Regions from separate parts of the Homo sapiens genome. Here regions 2, 3 and 4 are each linked to region 1. The links come from fine-mapping of genetic effects on gene expression. A gene starts in region 1. Each other region holds a variant in brackets. All regions are shown on one strand. Distances are from middle to middle. Region 1 holds the start of PDZD8 (PDZ domain containing 8). Region 2 has its middle 23 kb from the start of PDZD8. Region 3 overlaps PDZD8 (PDZ domain containing 8). Region 4 overlaps PDZD8 (PDZ domain containing 8).

Region 1 (5,666 bases):
GAAAATAGCATTAAAACAAATTCGTCTCTATTAACATAGTATAATTTCATAAAATAAAGGGCATGCTAACACCAATATTATCCAGAGCATTATCTCCTAACTTATCAAACACAGTCAAGTGTGGCTTAACAACAGACATAAGTTGTGAATCTTTAGGCAGTTTCATCATTGTGCGAACATCAGAGTGTCCTTACACAAACCTAGATGGGAAACCCTACTACATACCTGGGCCATATTGTATAGCCTATTGTTCCTAGGCTACAAATCTATACAGCACGTTGCTGTACTGAATACTGTAGGCAACCATAACACAATGGTATCTGTGTATCAAAACATCTCTAAACACAGAAATGGCATAGTAAAAATACGGTACTATAATCCTATGGGGCCACCATCCTATAGGCAGTCTGTCGTTAACAAGAACATCCTTCTATGGTGCATGACTGCATATTTGACTTTACAAAAACTCATGATATTTTGATTTCTAAATAATGTTTGAAATATTTAAATATTTCTAAATAACATGCTTAACACTGTGCTTGGCACATGGTCAGTTCTCTGTATTATTATTATTAGTGTTTAATCAATGTTGGTCATGTTTCACACAAGGGAGAATACTTTTTTCTTCCCAAAAGGTTTGCTGAGCTCTTTCATGGATTTGAAGTGTGTCCCTAAGGGGTCAAGTTTTGCTGGGGAATGCAATGACTCTGACTCTGTAAAACAAACTGAGAAGATTTAAGATTCTCACAGGTATTCTGAGGAGCGCAGAAGTGAGAGGAGAAGAGAAAAGAAAGGAGTCTGCAAGATGAAGACTGAGGACTCATTCCCATGAAGACCACAAACTTTCATTGTTGAGGAGGGAGGTGGGTGAAGAATATTTTGCAACTCGGGATGGATCAATATACAGTTTGAGGGTTTTATATTTCAGGAATGTGAATAACTTCTTTCATGCCACCCTACTTCCAGCTTCTGTAACATTTATAATATGCAATGTGCATGAATGTTATGAATAGGTTTACGGTGGAAATCATAGAAGGGTCTACATTTCTCATTTGAGTTGAAACAGTGTAGATCCCAGAGAGCAGCCCAGAAGCAGAGGCCAGGAACCAAAGGGGACCAGAGAACAGAAGTTGCCAAGATCTCCGAAAAATCTCGGCCATGGTTTGAGCATGGTTCCTCAGCAGACACCTATCTTATGTCTTCATAGTAATGAAAGCCATTCTGGTTTCGTATCTGGGCATGATTCGGTAAGGCATGATAAGCCTGGTTCCGAAGTTCTGTACCTGTCCCAGCTGGGTCAGGTCTATTTTTGTGGTAGAATCACCTACAGTTAAGAGAATCCTTGGCTTGGAGGTTTTCTTCTTTTTTTTTTGAGACAGGGTCTTGCACTGTCGCCCAGGCTGGGGTGCAATGGCGTGATCTTGGCTCACTGCAACCCCCGCCTACCGGGTTCAAGTGATTCTCCTGCCTCAGCCTCCTGAGTAGCTGGGACTACAGGCGCGCACCACCACGACCGGTTAATTTTTGTATTTTTAGTATAGACGGGTTTCACCATGTTGGCCAGGCTGGTCTCGATCTCTTGACCTCGTGATCTGCCCGCCTCGGCCTCCCAAAGTGCTGGGATTACAGGCGTGAGCCACCACGCCCGGCCGGCTTGAAGGTTTTCAAGGGCTAGAGAGGAGCCCTGCCCTGGCTCCTTAGGTACAGCCAGAATCGGCCTTTAAGGTATGGGATATCTGACTCCTGCAGGACTGGAACTCCACGTGCTTGGAGGGATAAGCATTTATGATGTAACCACTAAGTAGTCAGAGGGCAGGAGGAGTAACGCTGTTGCTGGGCAACCTGGCTTAGCTTCGTGGCTTTGGTTAAGGTGCTACTCTATGCAAAATTCCTTGCCGTCTTCCCTAATCCGCCTCCCCAATTCTCCCTTCCTGAACATTAGGGAACCCACTGGCCTGCTTACAACTGAAGCAGTTTCTGTGTTAGGGCAGAGAGTAGTGATCAAGACATTAGGGTTTAGTGTTAGATAAACCAGGCTCCACTCTGCGGCCCCACGCAACCTCCCCACGCTCTCTGCACCAGTGTTGGCATCTGTCAAGTGGGTGGGGGCTAACAGTGAATAACTGCCTCATAGATGGACTACCGGCTTAACCAGAGACTGACAGCGGGTCGCATATTAATCTTCCAATCACTTGGCAAACTCGTTTCACTATGCATCTCTCCTCCTGGCTGTTCTTTCAACTTCCTCCTCCCTGAAATTTCGAAGATCCACCTCGGTGGGAAAGTCATTCCGCGTGGCGCGCCCTTTCCCTGCGTCCCTCCTTCCCAGGGCCCACCCTCCGCGGACGCAGAGCGTCTGCCGGGGGGACGGCAGGTCCGCGATGGCTGCCTCTGAGGCAGTCGGTCCCCTCTCGCCGTGGGCTTGGGAAGCGTCCGAAAGGCCCGCTCGGATCGTCTGCGGTGCTGCCCGCAGGGAAAGCGCCGCTGCCAGCCGGGCTGTCACGGGTGCGAGTGGAAGAAGCACACCGCAGGATGAGCGACGCCGCTGCAGAGGTAACCGCGGGGACTGCGGCCAGAGACGGGGGATGGGCGCAGCCGAGGATAACGGGATGGCCGGCATCCGGAACGCGTCAGGCCCGCTCCGCCGGACCGCCTTATCCTCCAGCCCGCGTCCCCAGCCGTCCTCCCAGATCCCGACCGCAGCTCCAGAAGTGACGGCCACGTGGGTGGCGGCGCGCGCCGCGGGGATTGGAATGTTGGCGTGGGGGGACGAGGTTGGAAGGGCCGCAGAGAAGTAAAGGAGGACCCGCGTCCGCGTGCCCGGGCGCCGACTGCTGGGCGACGCCGCCGGGAGCGAGCACGCCTCTGACGTCACGCGCTGCTCGTCCAATGAGTGGAGGCCTGAGGGAGGCGCCGGTCCCGGCCCCGCTGCCGCCGCCGCCACACCGGCCCTTCGGGAGCGTCTGAGGAGGCGCGGGCCGCTGCGGGCTCGGGCGCCGCAGCGCGCCGGCCCGAGCCCCTGGACGAGGCCCACGGAGCCGCTCGCCCCGACCCAGCCGCCCGATGTCCTCAAAATGGAGGCAGCGGGGGCGGCGGCGTGAAGAAAGCGGCGCTGTGGGCGCGGGAGTAGGGGCCCGGGCGGAGGCGGTGGCGGGATGGGGCTGCTGCTCATGATCCTGGCGTCGGCCGTGCTGGGTTCCTTCCTCACGCTCCTCGCCCAGTTCTTCCTGCTGTACCGCAGACAGCCCGAGCCGCCGGCGGACGAGGCCGCCCGCGCGGGCGAGGGCTTCCGCTACATCAAGCCAGTGCCGGGCCTGCTCCTAAGGGAGTACCTTTATGGCGGCGGCCGGGATGAGGAGCCCTCCGGAGCGGCCCCTGAGGGCGGCGCGACCCCCACCGCGGCCCCCGAGACCCCCGCCCCGCCGACGCGGGAGACTTGCTACTTCCTCAACGCCACCATCCTATTCCTGTTCCGGGAGTTGCGGGACACCGCGCTGACCCGCCGCTGGGTCACCAAGAAGATCAAGGTGGAGTTCGAGGAGCTGCTGCAGACCAAGACGGCCGGGCGCCTGCTGGAGGGGCTGAGCCTGCGGGACGTGTTCCTGGGCGAGACGGTGCCCTTCATCAAGACCATCCGGCTCGTGCGGCCAGTCGTGCCCTCGGCCACCGGGGAGCCCGATGGCCCTGAAGGGGAGGCGCTGCCCGCCGCCTGCCCCGAGGAGCTGGCCTTCGAGGCGGAGGTGGAGTACAACGGGGGCTTCCACCTGGCCATCGACGTGGACCTGGTCTTCGGCAAGTCCGCCTACTTGTTTGTCAAGCTGTCCCGCGTGGTGGGAAGGCTGCGCTTGGTCTTTACGCGCGTGCCCTTCACCCACTGGTTCTTCTCCTTCGTGGAAGACCCGCTGATCGACTTCGAGGTGCGCTCCCAGTTTGAAGGGCGGCCCATGCCCCAGCTCACCTCCATCATCGTCAACCAGCTCAAGAAGATCATCAAGCGCAAGCACACCCTACCGAATTACAAGATCAGGTGAGCTGGAGGTCGGGGAGGGGGCCTGGCTGCCGGGAACCCGGGCCTGGGCGGGACGCTGCGTGGATTGGGAAGGGCAAAGGCTCATTTCTGTCCTGGCGCCTGCTTCTGGGGCCTTCCCACCCTGGACAGGGCCCCAGATCAAGGCGAGTCGTGAACACTTGCTTTGCTTCCGAACGGCATTGATAGGAGCTAGAAACCTTTTCGCGTGTTCATGGGGACTCAGGGTGCTGTCAACGCGGGCAGAATCGTCTCCTTTTATAAGCAGCATATTGGAAATGGAAGGGAAGCCTACCCTAATCCCCAGGAGTCGCTTCTGGGACTGTTGAGAAACTCTCCCTCTATGTGGTTGCTGCATTGAGGGCAGCCGCGTCACTGGCTTTGCAGCATCCCCTTGGCCGCTTTGAGAAATTGTTCCTGGACACAGTACACGCGTGAAGAGTGTGCTTATAGCCCAGGTCTGTGCTAATTTGACATTGCAAGCCACTTTTGCTTTGATGGTTTGACACCTTTCAAGGCAGAGGTGGTAACTCTTGCAAAGGAATACTTTTGTGGGTTTTTTTTGTTTTTGTTTTTGAGACAGAGTCTTGCTGTGTCGCCCAGGCTGGAGTACAGTGGCGCGATCTCGGCTTACTGCAACCTCTGCCTCCCAGGTTCGAGCGATTCTCCTGCCTCAGCCTCCCAGGTAGCTGGGGTTACAGGCGTATGGCACCACGCCTTGCTGATTTTTTTTTTTTTTTTTTTTTTTTTTGTATTTTTTAGTAGAGACGGAGTTTCACCGTATTGGCCAGGCTGGTTTCGAACTCCTGACCTCAAGTAATCCGCCTGCCTCGGCCTCCCAAAGTGTTAGGATTACAGGAGTGAACCACCGCGCCCGGCCCGGGAATACTTTCCACAGCAGATGGGAAAGGAGTTGGGAGCCTGTACATAGTGTACTTTACATTTTGTATTAATGTCATTTGCCCATTTTGGGTAGATTGTAGAACACAGATCCAGACTCTGCCCATCAAGCATTTACTCTCTGTGACTGTAAGTTCTTCTCTCAAGGGACCTGAAGTCACTGTACAAATTGTATTTTAATGCTAGGTAGTGATTTTAATTTTGTTTAAGCCTTCCAGCATCTGATGGCTTAAATTTTGTGGTATACAGTTTTGAGTAGTATATAAATTTTGTTTTAATATTGTAGGAGTGGAAGGGGAAAGACTTTTTTAGGGCTAGAGGTGGAGTGGAAGGTGCTTTTTCTTTTGTAAAAAGCTGAATTTTTAACTTCTCTTTCGGTCCTCCTTTAATTTTGTATTCACTAAGACATTTGAGCCTTTAAAATTTTGCCCTTTATTATAAAATTATGTCAGTCTTGTATTTTACTTACCTAATTTTACTTGCCTTTTAGTGGAAGTTGCCTATTTCTGGATCACTAATTTTCTACCAGTGTCAATTTTCAGGAGCAAGATAATCCAGAAATATTTTGGGTTTGGAATGGATTATTGACTTCTGTATGTGGCAGATGTACCTTACCAATTATGTTTTGTTTAGGCTAACAGCGCAGAGTGACAGTTTAAAACTTGCGTGGCAGGAGAAATTTACTTTGTAATGGAAATATTTCCATAGATTTGCGGAGGGTGGTGAACTGGTTGTTCAC
Region 2 (5,666 bases), 23 kb before region 1:
GAATACTACCTCACATCCATTAGGATGGTTAAAATCAAGACAAGTGATGGCAAACAAATGGAGAAATTGGAATCCTCATACTCTCTGGTGGGAAAGTAAAATGGTACAGCTACTTTGAAAAAAAGTTTAGCAGTTTCTCAAAAGGTTAAACATAGAGCTATCATAAAGTCATATGATCCAGGGTTTATACTTCTTGGTATATACCCAAGAGAAATGAAAACCTACATCCACACTAAAAATTGTACACAAATATTCATAGCAGTATTATTCATAATAGACAAAAAGTTGAAGCAACCTAAACACTTAACAGATGAAAGCATAAACAAATTATATATCCATATAATGGAATATTATTTGACCATAAGAAAAATCAAGTACTGATAACTGCTACAACCAGATGAACCTTGAAACATTATGCAAAGTGCAAGAAGCCAGTAACAAAAGACCATATATTGTTTGACTCCTTTCACATGAAATATTCAAATTAAGTAAATCCTTAGAGACAGAAGGTGATTTGTGGTTGCTGGGTTGGGAAGAAATAGGGCGTGATTGCTGATGGATATGGGTTTCTCTTTAGGGCGTTGAAAATGTTCTAAAGTTAGATTGTAGTAATGGTGACACGACTCTGAATATATTAAAAACTAATGAACTGTACACTTTAAATGGGTGAATTTTAAGGTATGTGAAAAATATCTCAGTAAAGCTATTTAAAATCTCATTAATCTTGGTTTTTTGTTTTGTTTTGTTTGGAGACAGTTGCTTGCTGTGTTGCCCAGGCTGGAGTGCAGTGGTGTGATCTCGGCTCACTGAAACCTCCACCTCCTGGGTTCAAGCAATTCTCATGCCTCAGCCTCCCCAGTAGCTGGGACTACAGATACACATCACCACTCCCGGCTAATTTTTTTTTTTTTTTTTTTTTTTTGTGTGTGTATTTCAGTAGAGGCAGTGTTTCATCATGTTGCCCAGGATACTGGTCTCTAACTCCTGAGCTCAGGCAATCTGCCCACCTTGGCCTCCCAAAGTGCTAGGATTACAGGTGTGAGCCACCATGTCCAGCCCTAAAATCTCATTAATCATAAAGATACTGAAAAATCATAGAGATACTGTCAATATTTTTGTAACACTTCAACATGTTTTCCCATCTTATGACTCAAGGCCCTGAAGGCACTTTTTTTTTTAAACATACAGTAACCTTGCAAAGATCATTGGTCTTCAAAAGATGAAGTAAGTCAACATTTTGCAATTAGAGGGAAGAGGTAGTCCATGGTTCAGTGGTCAGGTTTTTACCCAACAGGAAAGGTAGGCCTGCAAATGTTGCTTTACACTTTGTAACTGAAAATTTAACACACGCTTATTAAATGTTTACATGGTGCTAAAAAGACTTATTTGTCTTTTGGGGGAAACTGAAGGGTGCACAGAAGAAAGATGGTCAGCTAGGGGTCCCACGGAATTTTTCTTTGCTAATGTTGACTATCTGATTCCTTTGGATGTATGGTGGAAGAGAGCAAAGGGCTGGTATGCCATGGTGGTTACACAGTCACAATCTGGACGTGGCTGGCTTGGAATACTGCCCCTGCCACTTAGCAGCTGTATGACCGTGTGCAAGCCAGTTAGCCTCTCTGTGCCTCCATTTCCTTCTCTATAAAATGAGAATTCTACACTTCCTTCAGTTTTTATCGGAGGGCTTAGGCTGTTGTATTGTGCTCATAAATGGTACCTTTATGTGTAGACATTTTATGAGCAGTATATCTTGATGATTTCTTTCATGACTTAGAAAAACAAAAGTGTTGGCATTTTCTGAAGATCAGGATCTTATCCTTTTCTATTAGTTGTTTCATTCTGATATGTTTATTATTAAGTTATTTGTCAAAGTACTCTCCTGAAACTCTGCTATTAGGTAATTAAGAATTAAGACACTTAGGCCAGGCATGGTGGCTCACACCTGTAATCCCAGCACTTTGGGAGGCCAAGGCGGGCAGATCACCTGAAATTGGGAGTTCGAGACCAGCCTGGCTAACATCGAGAAACCCCATCTCTACTAAAAATACTAAATCAGCTGGGCATGGTGCCGTGCGCCTGTAATCCCAGCTACATGGGAGGCTGAGGCAGGAGAATTGCTTGAACCCGGGAAGCAGAGATTGCGGTGAGCCGAGATCACGCCATTGCATTCCAGCCTAGGCAACAAGAGCAAAACTCCATCTCAAAAAAAAAAAAGAATTAAGACACTTGATTGCTATGTATTTTCTTAACCAATGTGACTCTACTTTTCCTTAGCAAAAGTGTACAGAGTGCAGGCTCAGAATGAGATGCCCAGCTGCTGAACCTCATTCTTCTGATGTGTGGCGGGCAGAAAGGGCCAATGTAGGCAAGAAGTCTCTCAGTTCAAAACCACCTTCTAAGGCCCCCTTCATCCCAGGGCTTCTTTGGGGACTACGCAGAAGTGCTTATTTGCAATGCAAATACCCCAGATGACCTATCAATCAGTCAATTATCCAGGGTATTCCTTTCCATATTGCCCTCAGACCTGGGAAAGAGAAGGGTGACCCCATAATATCACACACACACTGATATGGTTTGGCTCTGTGTCCCCACCCAAATCGCAGGCCAAATTGTAATCCCCACATGTTGGAGGAGGGGTCTGGTGGGAGGTGATTGGATCATGGGGGCAGACTTCCCCCTTGCTGTTCTCATGATAGTATATGAGTTCTCATGAGATCTTGTTGCTTTAAAAGTGTGTAGCGCTTCCCCTTTATTCTTTCTGTCTCCTGCTAGGCCATGGTAACACATGCTTGTTTCCGCTTCACCTTCCGCTATGATGGTAAGTTCCTGAGGCCTTCCAGCCATGCTTCCTGTACAGCCTGCAGAACTGTGAGTCAATTAGACCTCTTGGTAGTTCCTTATAGAAGCATGAGAACAGACTAATACACACACATACACACTTCTTAAAGAACATGTGTGTTCCTTTGTCACATGGGACCTGGTGCTCAGCACTGGCATATCACTACCCCTAATCCTAAACATCTGCTCCTGGCACCAACGCTGCTCAAGCCCTAGGGAACACTTTTCCATATTTCTTACCTTTTA[T/G]CCTCAAAACAAAGGCTACCTGTCCTGAAGGTCATAAAGGTTTTTGGGTTGCTGCTGCCAACATCAGAGATGGACACAGCTTCAGAGGGCAGAGAGCATTTTAGTGGTAGGGACCATTAGGAAGAGAAAAAGCAAATTAATTAACTTGTCAATTTCTTCCTCCCAGAGAGCATGAATAAAACAGATTTTTGTTTCGCATAGTATCATTCCCTGTCATGCTGAGCTTTTCTTTTCATTTTATTTCTTTCATTTGTGGTTCCTAAACTCTTCATGAATTACACGAATCACATAATAAAATGTCACCATGTGGTTAGGCTGTAGTAGAACCATCACGTATCAACTATCCATAACCCAATGTCATGATTGACATCTTGAAGATATGATTTGTAATTTTAGGCATGAAATAAGTGCATGTAGTACTGATTATTTGTATTGGCAACTAAGTTAAAACGGTGAATGCTAGAATACTGAATAGTTTATTTTTGTAAAAGTATTTATTATGATTTAACTCCACTGTTAAAATTTTAAACAAAAAATGTAACTTTACTGAAATAATTTCATCTATAATTTTTACACTCATTAATTTATAATTTCTACTTTGCCTTTTTTTTTTTTTTTTTTTTTTTTGAGACGGAGTCTCGCTCTGTTGCTCAGGCTGAAGTGCAATCTCACGATCTCGGCTCACTGCAACTTCCGCCTCCTGGGTTCAAGAGATTCTCCTGCCTCAGCTTCCCAATTAGCTGGGATTACAGGCACCTGCCACCATGCCTGGCTAATTTTTGTATTTTTAGTAGAGCCAGGGTTTCACCATGCTGGCCAGGCTGGTTTTGGACTCTTGACATCAGGTGAACCATCGCCCGCCTCAGCCTCCCAAAGTGCTGGGATTACAGGCATGAGCCACCTCGCCTAACCCTTTTTTTTTTTTTGGAAATGGAGTCTCACTCTGTAGCCAGGCTGGAATGCAGTGGCACGATCTTGGCTCACTGCAACCTCCGCCTCCTGGGTTCAAGTGATTCTCCTGCCTCAGGCTCCTGAGTAGCTGCAACTACAGGCACACGCCACCACGCCCAGCTAATTTTTGTATTTTTAGTAGTGGCAGGGTTTCGCCATGTTGGCCAGAATGGTCTCAATCTCTTGAGATTCGCCCACCTCAGCCTCCCAAAGTGCTAGGATTACAGGCATGAGCCACCATGCCCGACCCTCTACTTTGCCTTTTAATGTAAATATTTTTCATGCTTTAAAAATTTTTTTCAAAAATATTCAACTTTAACTATTACATTTACTTTCATTTTACATTTTTGATGGAAATATATTAAAATTTGATACTTTTTGAATATAATTTTATGTTTTAATCTTTTGGATCATATCAATGGAATGTAAATTATTTGCATACTTTAATTGCAATTAGATAATTAGTTTTTTTCTTGCTGTGAAAGAAAAAAAATTTATGAAATATGTAATGACTCATGATATATGTCTTTATTTTATCACTCATTCAAATATTTCTGGGCCATCAATAGCACGTACACAGTAATACCTGAATTCAGTTATTCTTGATATTTTGTAGACTTTCAGTCAGATAAAAACTATAGTTTTCCAACTTAAAAAGAAAATTTCCATTATGAAGTCGTATTTGTCAATGTAGGGGGAGAAAAAATGTATTTTGCAGCTTGATTTATAATTTTCTATTTTGTTATTATTATTTTTTTTAATTTTTTTTTTTAGAGACAGAGTCTCACTGTTACCCAGGCTGCAGTGCAGTGGTGTGCAATCATAGCAGCCTCAAACTTCTGGGCCCAAGCAATCCTCCTACTTCAGTGTCCCAAGTAACTAAAACTACAGGCATGAGCCAACAGGCCCAGCTAATTTTTGTTGTTGTTGTTGTTGTTTTAATAGAGATAGGGTTCCTATGTTGCCAAGGCTGGCCTCAAGCTCCTTAGCTCAAGCAATCCTCCTGCCTCAGTCTCCCAAATAGCTGGGACTACAACGCATGCCACTTAGTTATAATTTTAAATATTTAGACCATTTGTACTCTAGCCCTGGCCCCACATATGTTGAAGATGAGCCTGACTGCTATAATCAGATGATCAGATAGAGTTTTTTAAAAATTTAACTAATAATAGCTAACTTATTGACACTAAATATGTGCCAGGCCCTGTGTTAAGTACTTTCTACATATTATGCCATTAAATCCTCCCAATAACCCTATGTCATTATTCCCACTTTATTTATTTATTTATTTTTAGCTTTTATTTTAGGTTCTGGGGTATATGTGCAGGTTTGTTATACAGGTAAATTGCATGTCACAGGGGTTTGGTGTACAGATTATTTCATCACCCAGGTAGCATATTGCCCAGGGAATAAGCATAGGTAGTTTTTTTATCCTCACCTTGCTCCCACCCTCCACCCTCAAGTAGGCTGTGTTGTCTATTGTTACCTTCATTGTGTCCATGTGTACTCAATCTTTATCTCCCACTTGTGATAGTTTATCTCCCACATGTGAGTACATATGGTATTTGGTTTTCTGTTCCTGCACTAATTCGCATAGGATAATGACCTCCAGCTCCATGATCTTAATCTAT
Region 3 (5,666 bases), 32 kb after region 1:
TTATTAATAACTCCTGTATTATTAATGCTGGAGGGGTATAATGAGGCATCTCTGGCATGTCCGACCCCCATTTGCCATCATGGCTTGAACCATTCTTTCAGATTAAATTTTAAGAGTGCCCTGGCTGAGGAGGAAATTCAATCAGGTGGTTGGGGGGATCTTAGAATTTTATTTTTGGTTCATAGTTTCTTTTTTTACAATTCCTGTCTCTTTATTGGTATGCTCTATTTAGTGTAACATTGTCATAATACCTCCCTATAGTTTTTTTTTTTTTTTTTTTGGACGGAGTTTCGCTCTTGTTGCCTAGGCTGGAGTGCAATCTCGGCTCACTGCAACCTCCGCCTCCCAGGTTCAAGCGATTCTCCTGTCTCAGCCTCCTGAGTAGCTGGGATTACAGGTGCATGCCACCACGCCCGGCTAATTTTTATATTTTTAGTAGAGACGGGATTTCATCATATTGGTCAGGCTGGTCTCGAACTCCTGACCTCAGGTGATCTGCCCGCCTCAGCCTCCCAAAGTGCTGGGATTACAGGCTTGAGCCACCGCGCCTGGCTGAACCCCTATAGCTGAACCCCTATAGTTCTTTAATCATGTCTTTTTCCATGAACATATTTATGGAGACATATTTAACATGGACACAGACTTTAAGTCTGATAAGAAACGTTTTACAGCCTATTCTCTCCAAAGCCTACTACCTGAAGGCTTCCTCTGTAAATAAGAACTTTGGTCTCCACAAATTTTGAATCTTTTTCTGTTAAATCTAACATCTGGTCCTTCTCACAGGCAGTGTGTGTTTTTTTGTTTGTTTGTTTTGTTTTGTTTTTTCTTTGTTTTTTGCTGTATGGGTCATACTTTTCTGTTTCTTTTTATGTCTCATAACTTTTTCTTGGAAACCAGACACTTTAGATAATATATTGTAGCAACCTTAGATACTGGTCTCCCCTTACCCAGAGCTTGATATTTGCTTGTCTGTTTTTAGGTTGACTGCCTGGATTATTTTAGTACAGTACACCCACCCCACTTACCCCCCCACTAGTGTTAACTCTCTTATTGCTTTTAACAGCACCCAGGGGCATAACTTGTTCTACAAACTATTCCAGTCAAATTGTGCCTCCTTCAGGAATAGTTTCTTGGGTAAGTGTTTGATATTTGCTCTCACCCCAGGAGGGCTCCTCCCAGCTGTCTTATTTCCTGTTTCTCTACTAGGGGCACAGCAGCCTGCAGCCTAGGATATGTCTTCCTTAAATCCATGAAGGAAGACATGTGCTTTTCACCACAACCTCCATTGTTCTTGGTAGTGCCTTTAGGTTTGAGCTTCTTCACAGACTATTGTAAATGAAATTAATTCCTTTGGGAAGAGATTGGGAGAATCTGTTTTCTGACTTGCCTCTCCCTCTTCTTTTCCCCTTAGCAAAATAATCAGAACCAGGTCTCTGGAGCTAGGGGTGAAGACTACTGCAGGCTTCTCTCTGGGTGATACCACAACTCTAGGAGCTGAGTGCTAGATTGGGGATAGAGTAGCCAGAGGTCCTCTTGGCTTGCCTTTCCCACTATGGAACCACTTCCTCATGAGCCAGGGCAAGACAGTCAGGGTTCCAGTATTCTCAGTGTTCTGTGCCCAAGGTAGACCCTCCATTCCATGAGTGGGGGCTGGGTCAATGAAGGAATCCCCCTCCTCTTGACTGAACTTGCCTGGAAGTAACAGGTGACTGGAGGCTAGATGAGAAATGTTCCTATCCTCCTCTTCCCAGGGAGAAAGCCCACCAAATGAGAGCTGTGGGATGAGGGAGCCCTGTGTTCCTGGCAATAGAAGTCTAGCATGGAGTGGCCGGGCGTGGTGGCTCACGCCTGTAATCCCAGCACTTTGGGAGGCCGAGGTGGGCAGATCACGAGGTCAGGAGATAGAGACCATCCTGGCTAACACGGTGAAACCCCATCTCTACTAAAAATACAAAAAAATAGCCGGGTGTGGTGGTGGGCGCCTGTAGTCCCAGCTACTCGGGAGGCTGAGGCAGGAGAATGGCGTGAACCCAGGCGGTAGAGCTTGCAGTGAGCCGAGATTGTGCCACTGCACTCCAGCCTGGGCGACAAATTGAGACTCCGTCTCAAAAAAATAAAAAATAAAAAGTAAAGAAGTCTACTGTGGAATCTGCCACCCTGAGCTTGTTGGGGAAACAGGGTTCAAACACCACAGACTTGGCTTTCTTATCAAATTGTCATCGATTTTCTTAAGTAGATTTTTAAAATTTGCTGTTTGCTCTTAAGATCATTTCCAGAGGCTGTAAATGTTTTGGTTTAAAATAATTTTCACGAATTTCACTGGGGAGCAGATCAGCAGGGCTCTTCATACTGTCATCCTTAAAGTCGATCTTCCTAGTTTGGGTTTTTAAGTTTTCTACAGGAGGAAGTACAGGTAGTTTGTTAAGACTATTTTGCGGGGAAGCCTGAGTGAGAAAACTGACATTTTTGAGTTAATAGGTTAATTAGGAAATAAAGACTAATGGATTTTGAAGAAAGATGATATGATGGAATAGGAAGATAAAAGAAAGTGA[T/G]AGAGGTAGCCCGCTTCATTGTTTGGATTCTTTATGGGTTTGGGATACTTAAAGACTTGGACTTAAAAATTCTGAAAACCAAAGGTTCTTAGAGAATGTTAATGTGTGGATTCTATTTATTGGCTTGCCGAACATGTTCATGCTTTATCCCACCGTTTAGTATATTCATTTAAAATGGAATACGTTGTTCTGATTTTAGATTATTTTTGTGCATAAACACTCTTAGCAAAACCCCCTGAGCATTAGTAAATCCAAATTAGACTTTAATCCATATAACATTCAACTCATACTCCTGTGAGAAATTTTATTGAATTTTGACTTTATATTTGACAAGGAAAGCTGGTTCTTAGAGCAGTTGTGATTTAGCTAACTTGGATTATTAAATTCAAAGTTTCTAGTGTATATGGTTATTATAATTTTTTTACAAACTAACAGTTATATGTTTTTCAGGAGTCATAAGGACTGTGTGTTAAAAGCACCCAGCTACAACATTATATTGATATAAATTTAGTTACTAGTTTTTTTCCCTCTAAAAATTTGGTGCCAGTCTGTCTGAATCAAATGACTTCAAATGCAAATTAGCGTTTTAGTTGGGAGAAACTCGGGGGGCTTTCTGCTTTCCATACTAGTTTAGAAACAGGAGAAAACCACTGAGCATCGCCTGTGTCCCTACTTAACATTTCCTTAAAATTTTTTTCTTTAATCTTACTTACTGGGAAAACATAAAACAGCATTTAACCCCCTCTATTAGTGTCTTTCAGTATAAACTATAGTAGGCCATTGATATTTTCTAAGTGTTTATTTCAGTTTTAGTGTTAACTCTTTGTAAATCAGCGCAACACATACTCAAATCCTGATAGTGTGTGAAACATCCCGTCAGGTATGGATGATGGATGCAGAGAATTGTGAGACTAAGTCATATTTGACATTTTAAGGCATAAATGCACGCAATTTAGAGGACTGCAAGATAGAGAAGAGTGAAAGCAGCATGTATGGCCGAGTGCGAAAGAGGGGAGGATTTGGACAGGCTTTGAGGAATCTGGGAAAACTTCCAGTTGGTATGAAAGGCCTGAAGGCAGGAATATTCATAGTGTCTTCTGGGCATATGAGGTGACTTTCTAGATTGGAATGTTTATATTAAGAGAATATATGATTAGAAAGATTAATTGTGGGCTGGGTGTGGTGGCTCAGGCCTGTAATCCCAGCACTTTGGGAGGCCATGTGGGAGGCCGAGGCAGGCAGATCACTTGAGGTCAGGAGTTCAAGACTGATCTGGCCAGCGTGGCAAAACCCCATCTCTGCTAAAAATACAAAAATCATCCAGGTATAGTGGTGCATGCCTGTAATCCCAGCCACTTGGGAGGCTGAGGCAAGAGAATAGCTTGAATCAAGGAGGCAGAGGTTGCAGTGAGCCAAGATCGTGCCACTGCACTCCAGCTTGGGCAACAGAGCAAGACTGTGTCTCAAGAAAAAATAAAAAAGGAACATTAATTGTGGTGGACCTTAAATGTGAAACCAAGAACTTTTGACTATGTGTGTGTGTGTGTGTGTGTGTGTGTGTGTGTGTATCTGTTTGTGTGGTCAGTAAGAAGCCACTAAAACTTTCTGAGCAAGTAGATATCATGGCTAGTGACAATGTGTAGGGTGAATTGAAAACCACGGGGCTTTAAGCCCAATTTTCTTTCATTTTCTTTTTCTTTAGCTTTAATGGAGGAGTATGAGTTGTGTTTTAAATTAAAAGTTTTTTAAAACCTACAGTTTATAACTCAGCACAAACTTCTCCATAAAAACAACAATATTAGTGATGAGCATATGAATGCCTGGATAATTCATAGGTAACTGAGGTGTTATATAGTTGGACTTTGGAATTAGACTAGCTTGAATTCTGGTTTTGCCATTCACTTTGTAAAATTGAACAAACTTGTTAACCTTCCTAAGCTTCATTCTTTTCATCTGGAGAGAGGAGCCAATAATATTGCCCTCTTCAGGGTTGTGAGCATTAAATAAGATAATGCATGTAAAAAGCACTTAGCATACTGCCTGGCAAATAGTAAACATCTCTAATGAATATCTCTGCTGTGTTAATTGTTATTGATGTTGCTATTACAGTCATCTTTATCATGTACTAATCACTGTCTGTAATAGTCAGCTCTCTGTATTCGTGGGCTCCACATCCATGGGTTCCACATCCATGGATTCAAACAACTGTGGATTGAAAATATTTTTTAAAAATTTAATCTGCGCTGAACATGTACAGACTTTTTTCCTTGTCATTATTCTCTGAACAATATAGTCTTAACAACTATTTACATAGCATTTACATTGTATTAGGTATTATAAGTAATCTGGAGATGATTCAAAACATATGGGAGAATGTGTATAATGCAGATACTGGGCCATTTTATATTAGAGACTTGAGCATCCTGGGATTTTGGTATCCTTGGGAAGTACTGGAACCAATCCCCCATGGATGCCAAGGGGACTGTATATTATTTCCATGGAACATGCATTCTGAATTTTGATCTTGTACCGTAGGAACACTCTTCCCATCTGGTTCACAGTCTCTCTCCTGCCCCACCTAAACTTCATGGCCTACTTGCTGCCTCTAGGCTTTTCTTTTCTTTGTTCTCTCTTGCCTTATCAATGGGGGCATACCAAAAAACCAAGACTTATGGGTGCCATAGCGAAGGCACCATTTGCTGCCAGTTATGGGGGAGTGTGGTAAGCTTTGGTTTTGTAGAGCACGTGTAGTATTAGGTGTTCATTTTGCTTTGTGTTTTTGTACAGGTGAGTTTTGTTATGCTTTAAACTGTGGTGTTTATTATTCAGACATTTAGACTTATCTTTACTTTTGTCAGGTTTAAGCCGTTTTTTCCATACCAGACCTTGCAAGGATTTGAAGAAGATGAAGAGCATATCCATATACAACAATGGGCACTTACTGAAGGCCGTCTTAAAGTTACGTTGTTAGAATGTAGCAGGTATGTTCTTTGTTTTGTCATTACTAAGTTACGGGAAGAACAGTGCAGTGAAAATATTCCTAAGCAGTATTTGTGTTGTGTGTTCATTTAAATTATATTATTTACCTGTAAATTCTTTAATTGTAAATTTAAT
Region 4 (5,666 bases), 43 kb after region 1:
TGTTGGGCTGTTTCATTTTCCCATAGGTCCCCTGAGGTTTGGTTTGTTTGCTTGTTTATTTGTTTGTTTCTTTAAATTCTTTTTCTCTGTGTACTTTGGATTGAGTAATTCACGTGGTCTAATTTCAGGTTCACTGAGTCTTCTCCTATCTCCAGTTTTCTGTTGAGCTCATCTAGTGAATTTTTAATCTCATTTATTATACTTTTTGGCTCTAGAATTTCTGTTTTGTATAGTGTCTCATTTCTATGTTGATATTTCCTATCTGTTCACTCATTATGTTTTCCTTTAATTCTTTGAACAAATGTTCTGTCAGTTTTTTGAGCCATATATATATATAATGGCTGCATTGAAGCCTTGATCTGCTAAATCTAGTATCTGAGCACATTAGGAGTCAGTTTTGTTTTGTTTTGTTTTGAGACAGGGTCTTGCTCTGTCACCCAAGCTGGAGTGCAGTTACATGATCATGCCTTACCACAGCCTTGACCTCCTGGGCTCAAGCGATCCTCCCGCCTCAGCCTCCCAAGTAGCTGGGACCACAGGCATGTGACACCAACATCTGGCTAATTTTTTGTATTTTTAGTAGAGAAAGAGTTTTATCCTGTTGCTTAGGCTAGTCATAAACTCCTGCTTCAACCAGCTTCATCCAGCCCACCAGCTTCAACCTCCCAAAGTGCTGGGCATGAAGCCCAACATTACAGGCATGAAGCCCTGTGCCCTGCCTGCAGCTGCAGTTTTTTGATAATTGAAATATTAATCTCAAAGCAGGCTTCTGTCTACATTCAGAAGGTTTTCATTGTCTTTAAATGTGATAAAAAATTTTGTTTATCCAGTTTTTATAATTACAATCTGTGGAAGAATTTGAGTGACACTTCACTACTGTTAAAGTATTGGCCACCTCATTTTGTTGTACATGTTGTTGAATTTTGCTTTTGTTTCCCTCATTGCTTTTTGTCCTTTTATGGGGGGGTTTTGGGGAGACTCAAAACTGTGTCACCACTCTTGACATCATTCTGGAACCAGAAATACATTGATCTTTTAAGGCAAAGAAAATCATTTAATTATGTGATTAAATTCTTTTTTAGTGTTGTCATCTGGTCTTGATTCACATATTAGGTGAAGCATTTTCAAAGTAGAAGTTTGACAGAAGAGAGAAATAGGGAATTAATCCTTTAAATAGCATTATGTTCATATTTTAAAGTGAAATGTTTAGTTCTGTAGGGAAGGCTGCTAATATTATGAAATTTTGAAATTCATTTACAAGAGGAGCTATTTTAGTAGTTATAACTTCAAAATATTTCCAGTTTGCATTTGTCTATGAATCCCGTTTATGTTAGCATTGAGTTTGATTAAATTTGTTTGGTTATTTTGGCTTGAATATAACTTAAATCCACCTGAAGCAAATGAGGCTAAATAATAATATTTGCTTTTTTCCTGAGTAGTTGGTATGTGGGTGCTTCTTATATTACCTGCCTTTATTTTAATGTTTTGACATTTTTTTAAGGAAAAATATCTAGCTAAATCTGAAGATATTTGGGGCATGGCTCTACAAATAATTGTATTATTAGTTGTACTTATTATCTGCAATATGTAGGTACTTTACTGCATGTATTATTTTCAGCTCTTAGAGCATCGTTACAAGATTAGTGTTATTATATCCATTTTATAGATGAACTGAGATCCACAAGTTACTTGCTCAGTACCACTGGAATTTGAATCTAGTTTTGTCTAACTCCAGAGTTCCTCGGTCTTTCTGTTATCTTATTCTGCCTCCATATCCCCTTTTTTTTTTTTTTTTTTTTTTTTTTGAGACAGAGTCCACTCTGCTGTCCAGGCTGGAGTGCAATGGTGCAATCTCCACTCACCACAACCTATGCCTACCAAGTTCAAGTGATTCTCCTGCCTCAGCTTCTCAAATAGCTGAGATTACAGGCACCCGCCACCACACCCATCTAATTTTTGTATTTTTAGTAGAGACGGGCGTTTCACCATGTTGGCCTGGCTGGTCTCAAACTCCTGACCTCAAGTGATCTGCCTGCCTTGGCCCCCCAAAGTGCTGGGATTACAGGCATGAGCCACCACGCCTGGCCCATATCCTTTTTTAAAAAAACTTTACAGAGGCCAGGCGTGGTGATTCACGCCTGTAATCCCAGCACTTTGGGAGGCCGAGGTGGGTGGATCACCTGAGGTCGGGAGTTCAAGACCAGCCTGATCAACATGGAGAAACCCCATTTCTGCTAAAAATACAAAACTTAGCCAGGCGTGGTGGCATATGCCTGTAATCCCAGTTACTCGGGAGGCTGAGGCAAGATAATCACCTGAACCCAGGAGGCGGAGGTTGCGGTGAGTCAAGATGGCGCCATTGCACTCCAGCCTGGGCAACAAGAGCAGAACTCAGTCTCAAAAAAAAAAAAAAAAAAA[AAAAC/C]CCTTACAGAATAAAAATTATTTTGGTTCTGAAAACTTTTATATTATGTTAGAAGTGTAGGTTTTGGAAAATTGTAACATTTTTTAGGGCAGGGCATTATTTTTAAAATAAATTACCTTTTCAGAAAGATCGAGGGATGGAGAAATGTGTATAATAATGAAGTATTTTTTAGTTGAAGGCTGAAGTTCTGTTTTTTGTTTTTTGTTTTTTTCTTGGAGGGAACGATAAGAGGAAATTAGCTCAGGCATAAGACATTTAAATTTGTATAAAGGAAAAGTTGCACTCAAAATGAATGCTTTTGAAAACCAGAAGGAATTACTTGGAATTGTTGCTGAATATTATTCCTCAAAGTCTTTAAAGCTGTGTAATTCTGTGTAAATTTAGGCATAACTCTACCAGATGAACCAAGTTCCTGTAAAGATTTTGAGACTATGTTTGCATTTATTAATTATTTAACATCTTATATGCAGTTAAATAAAAGTTGAGTGATGTTTTCCGTTAGTTTTTATACATTTCTCTCAGATATAAAGAATCTTCCGTATAATTAGGTTGCTTTTGACTAGAGGCAGACTTTTCAAAAGACTGCAAATTTGGAATTTCTCCCTCCTGTATTTATGTAGGCTCTCTTTTCTTCCCCATATCCTTTTCCCTAAGGTTGTGATGCTGGAAAATAGCCTTGTTTCTTTTGTAATTGTATACCTCCACTACTGTTTCATACTACAAAATATAGCTCTTTAATTCTTCTGATGTCTGAATTGTAAGAGAATGTAAGAAAACTAAGTAGGAACACAGCTGACATAATACCAGTGCTCTTTTTTAAAATGCCATACTCCAAAATGTTTTAAATGCTGTATTGGTATGCTATACACTCATACAATACCTTCAGCAAAAATGAACTGTGGTCAGAAAATAATAATTTAAAAGAGGATTGTGTCTTTGATAATCAGTGCTTTTAATGTATTTTATTCACGGGTAGCATTTGTAATTTTAACCAAAAGACAACTGCCTTTATTTTCTCTCTTTCAAAATTTTTTCAACCCATTTGTCTCAACTTATATAGTCCAGACTTTTCATTTATTAGCTGTGCAATGTCTGGCATGTTACTCAACCTCTCTGTGTTCATTTTCTAATGTGTAAATTAGGGGTAATACCATTACCTATTTCCTTGAGTAATTGTGAAAATTAAATGAAATAATAAATGTAAAGCTCTTAGAATTGTCCTTACAGTAAATGTTAGCTGCTTCAACTATTTCTGCTACTACCACCACCACTACTGCTTCCACCACACTACCACCAGTCTTTCCAACATCAATAGTGAATGCATTTTGTCTAAATACTACGATGAATACAAAAAATATGGAGCTCAGTGTCTGCCCTCTAGAAACTTAAAATGTAGTTAGGGCTAACAGACAAAAACAAATGCATAAATAAGTCAACTATATGAGGCTGTCTAATTTGAATTGAGGCTTAAGTGATGGGTAGTATAGAAACTTAGTGCAAGGAAAAAGTATTTTTGAATTGACACTACCATGGAAAACTTCATGGATAAGATTCAGGAAACTAGATGGATTGTAGATTTTAGGTAATTGGAAAAAGAGCCATAAGATAAAAGAGAATTAGAATTGTAAAGTATTTTCCAGGTCTTGTCTGAATGAAGTGTAGATGTCTCAGGGCCAAATTTGCTGGCAAGAGAAGTTACAATGGTGATCCTTTAATCAGAGAAAAGTTATTGAAGGTGATATTAAGAAAAATGTGCATATTTATGGAGTAAATTGTATATATAGAGATTGAAGTCCCAGAGACAAATTTAAGAGGTGTTGTGGGTTAAAGGTGAGGAAGTAAATGCCTCATAGATATGTTTTAATAGGAACAAGAAGGAAGGGACACGTGGGATAACTAGGACAGGGTTTAGTGAGTGACTGAATATATGGATGAGTTAATAGGCAGGGGAGGCAAAGGAACTCTAAGGATCTGAGTGTAGGAGAGTTATGTATCCATTGACGTTGATCTGCTCAGCAAGTACTGATTATTTTCTGCATGTTATAGGATAGAAAGAACAAGACACAGTTACCTTCCAGGACTGGATGGGGAAATAGAGGTACTCATTTCAAAGGCAGATGAATTTGATTTTACATATCTTAAGTAGTAAGGCATGGTTAGATTTCCCTGTAGGAGTGTTCTGCAAACTCTTGGGGTTTTAGAGGTAGCAGGGGGAAAATGAGGACTGAAGATTAGATTTGGAAGTCGTGAAAATTGAGGAAAATTGAGTTCTGCATGAGGATGTTTCTGAGGGGGGTTGGGAATATAGAGAGGAGGTGAGCATGTATAAAAGGTCAACCAAGCCTGATTCTTTTAACAACAGGTGAAGTGGTATTTGACCCCCTTCAAGTGCAGGGTTTTCCTTTCAAATTAAGTTTAGTCACCAAAGGAAAAAAAAAAAACAGATTTTTCCCTCCCTCCCTCCCTCCCTCCTTCCCTCCCTCCCTCCCTCCCTCCCTCCCTTCCTTCCTTCCTTCCTTCCTTCCTTCCTTCCCTTCCTCCCTCCTTCCTTTCTTGAGACAGGGTCTCATTCTGTCACCAAGACTGGAGTGCAGTGTCTTGGTCTTGCCTCACTGCAACCTCCACCCGCCAGGCTCAAGCAATCCTCCCACTTCAGCCTCCCGAGTAGCTAGGACTACAGGCATACACCACCATACCCAACTCCTTTTTGTATTTTTTGTAGAGACAGAGTTTTGCCATGTTGCCCAGGCTCGTCTTGAATTCCTGGCCTCAAGGTATTCACCTACTTTGGCCTCTCCGAGTGCTGGGATTACAGGCATGAGCCACCATGCCCCATCATTTTGTACTTTTCTTTGTAGAAATGACTTTCTTATAGCATGAGCATTGGGAATTACTTTCCTTTTCTCATTGGTTTCATCTTTAATCCATTTATACCTAGTGTTCCATTATTGGAACTCTAAGCTTGTGGGAGTTATTTATATCCTACTGCTCAACGTCATCGCCAAGGTCTGATTTTTCACAAAAAAATTTTTCAACCTCCGGTATAAATGGGTTAATCATGTAAACGATCTTAACATGTTTCTAGGTGGTGTTTGTATTTATGCTTACTGGAAGGTTTCAACATACCTTTGCCTTTAAAAGAATACTTTGAACTTGGTAAGAAATTTCACAGAGGTAATAGCTCTTTCAGGAGATAGACGGCAATTTAGAGGAGATAAAAGGCAATTTCTTTTGCTTTTTTGTT

Evidence for each region. PIP is the estimated chance that this variant, and not a neighbour inherited with it, causes the effect.
Region 2: its variant is the best candidate, but not a certain one, in a credible set for the expression of PDZD8 in whole blood (TwinsUK, PIP 0.88).
Region 3: its variant is the best candidate, but not a certain one, in a credible set for the expression of PDZD8 in lymphoblastoid cells (GTEx, PIP 0.87).
Region 4: its variant is the best candidate, but not a certain one, in a credible set for the expression of PDZD8 in iPS cells (PhLiPS, PIP 0.87).

What each region holds. Positions count from the first base shown.
Region 1 is chr10:117,372,717-117,378,382 of GRCh38, reverse strand. PDZD8 (PDZ domain containing 8) reads left to right here and starts at 2,943. Exons shown (of 5, transcript NM_173791.5): 1 at 2,943-4,027. The coding sequence starts at 3,156. RefSeq lists an enhancer at 2,503-2,622 and silencers at 2,853-3,172, 3,273-3,452.
Region 2 is chr10:117,395,393-117,401,058 of GRCh38, reverse strand. No RefSeq gene overlaps it. Among named protein-coding and RNA genes, the nearest start is that of PDZD8, 23 kb to the right of the region's middle. The variant T/G (reference allele first, on the strand shown) is at 3,085.
Region 3 is chr10:117,340,847-117,346,512 of GRCh38, reverse strand. PDZD8 (PDZ domain containing 8) reads left to right here. Exons shown (of 5, transcript NM_173791.5): 2 at 5,411-5,533. Among named protein-coding and RNA genes, the nearest start is that of PDZD8, 32 kb to the left of the region's middle. The variant T/G (reference allele first, on the strand shown) is at 2,553.
Region 4 is chr10:117,329,257-117,334,922 of GRCh38, reverse strand. All of the region lies in intron 2 of PDZD8 (PDZ domain containing 8), which reads left to right. Among named protein-coding and RNA genes, the nearest start is that of PDZD8, 43 kb to the left of the region's middle. The variant AAAAC/C (reference allele first, on the strand shown) is at 2,419.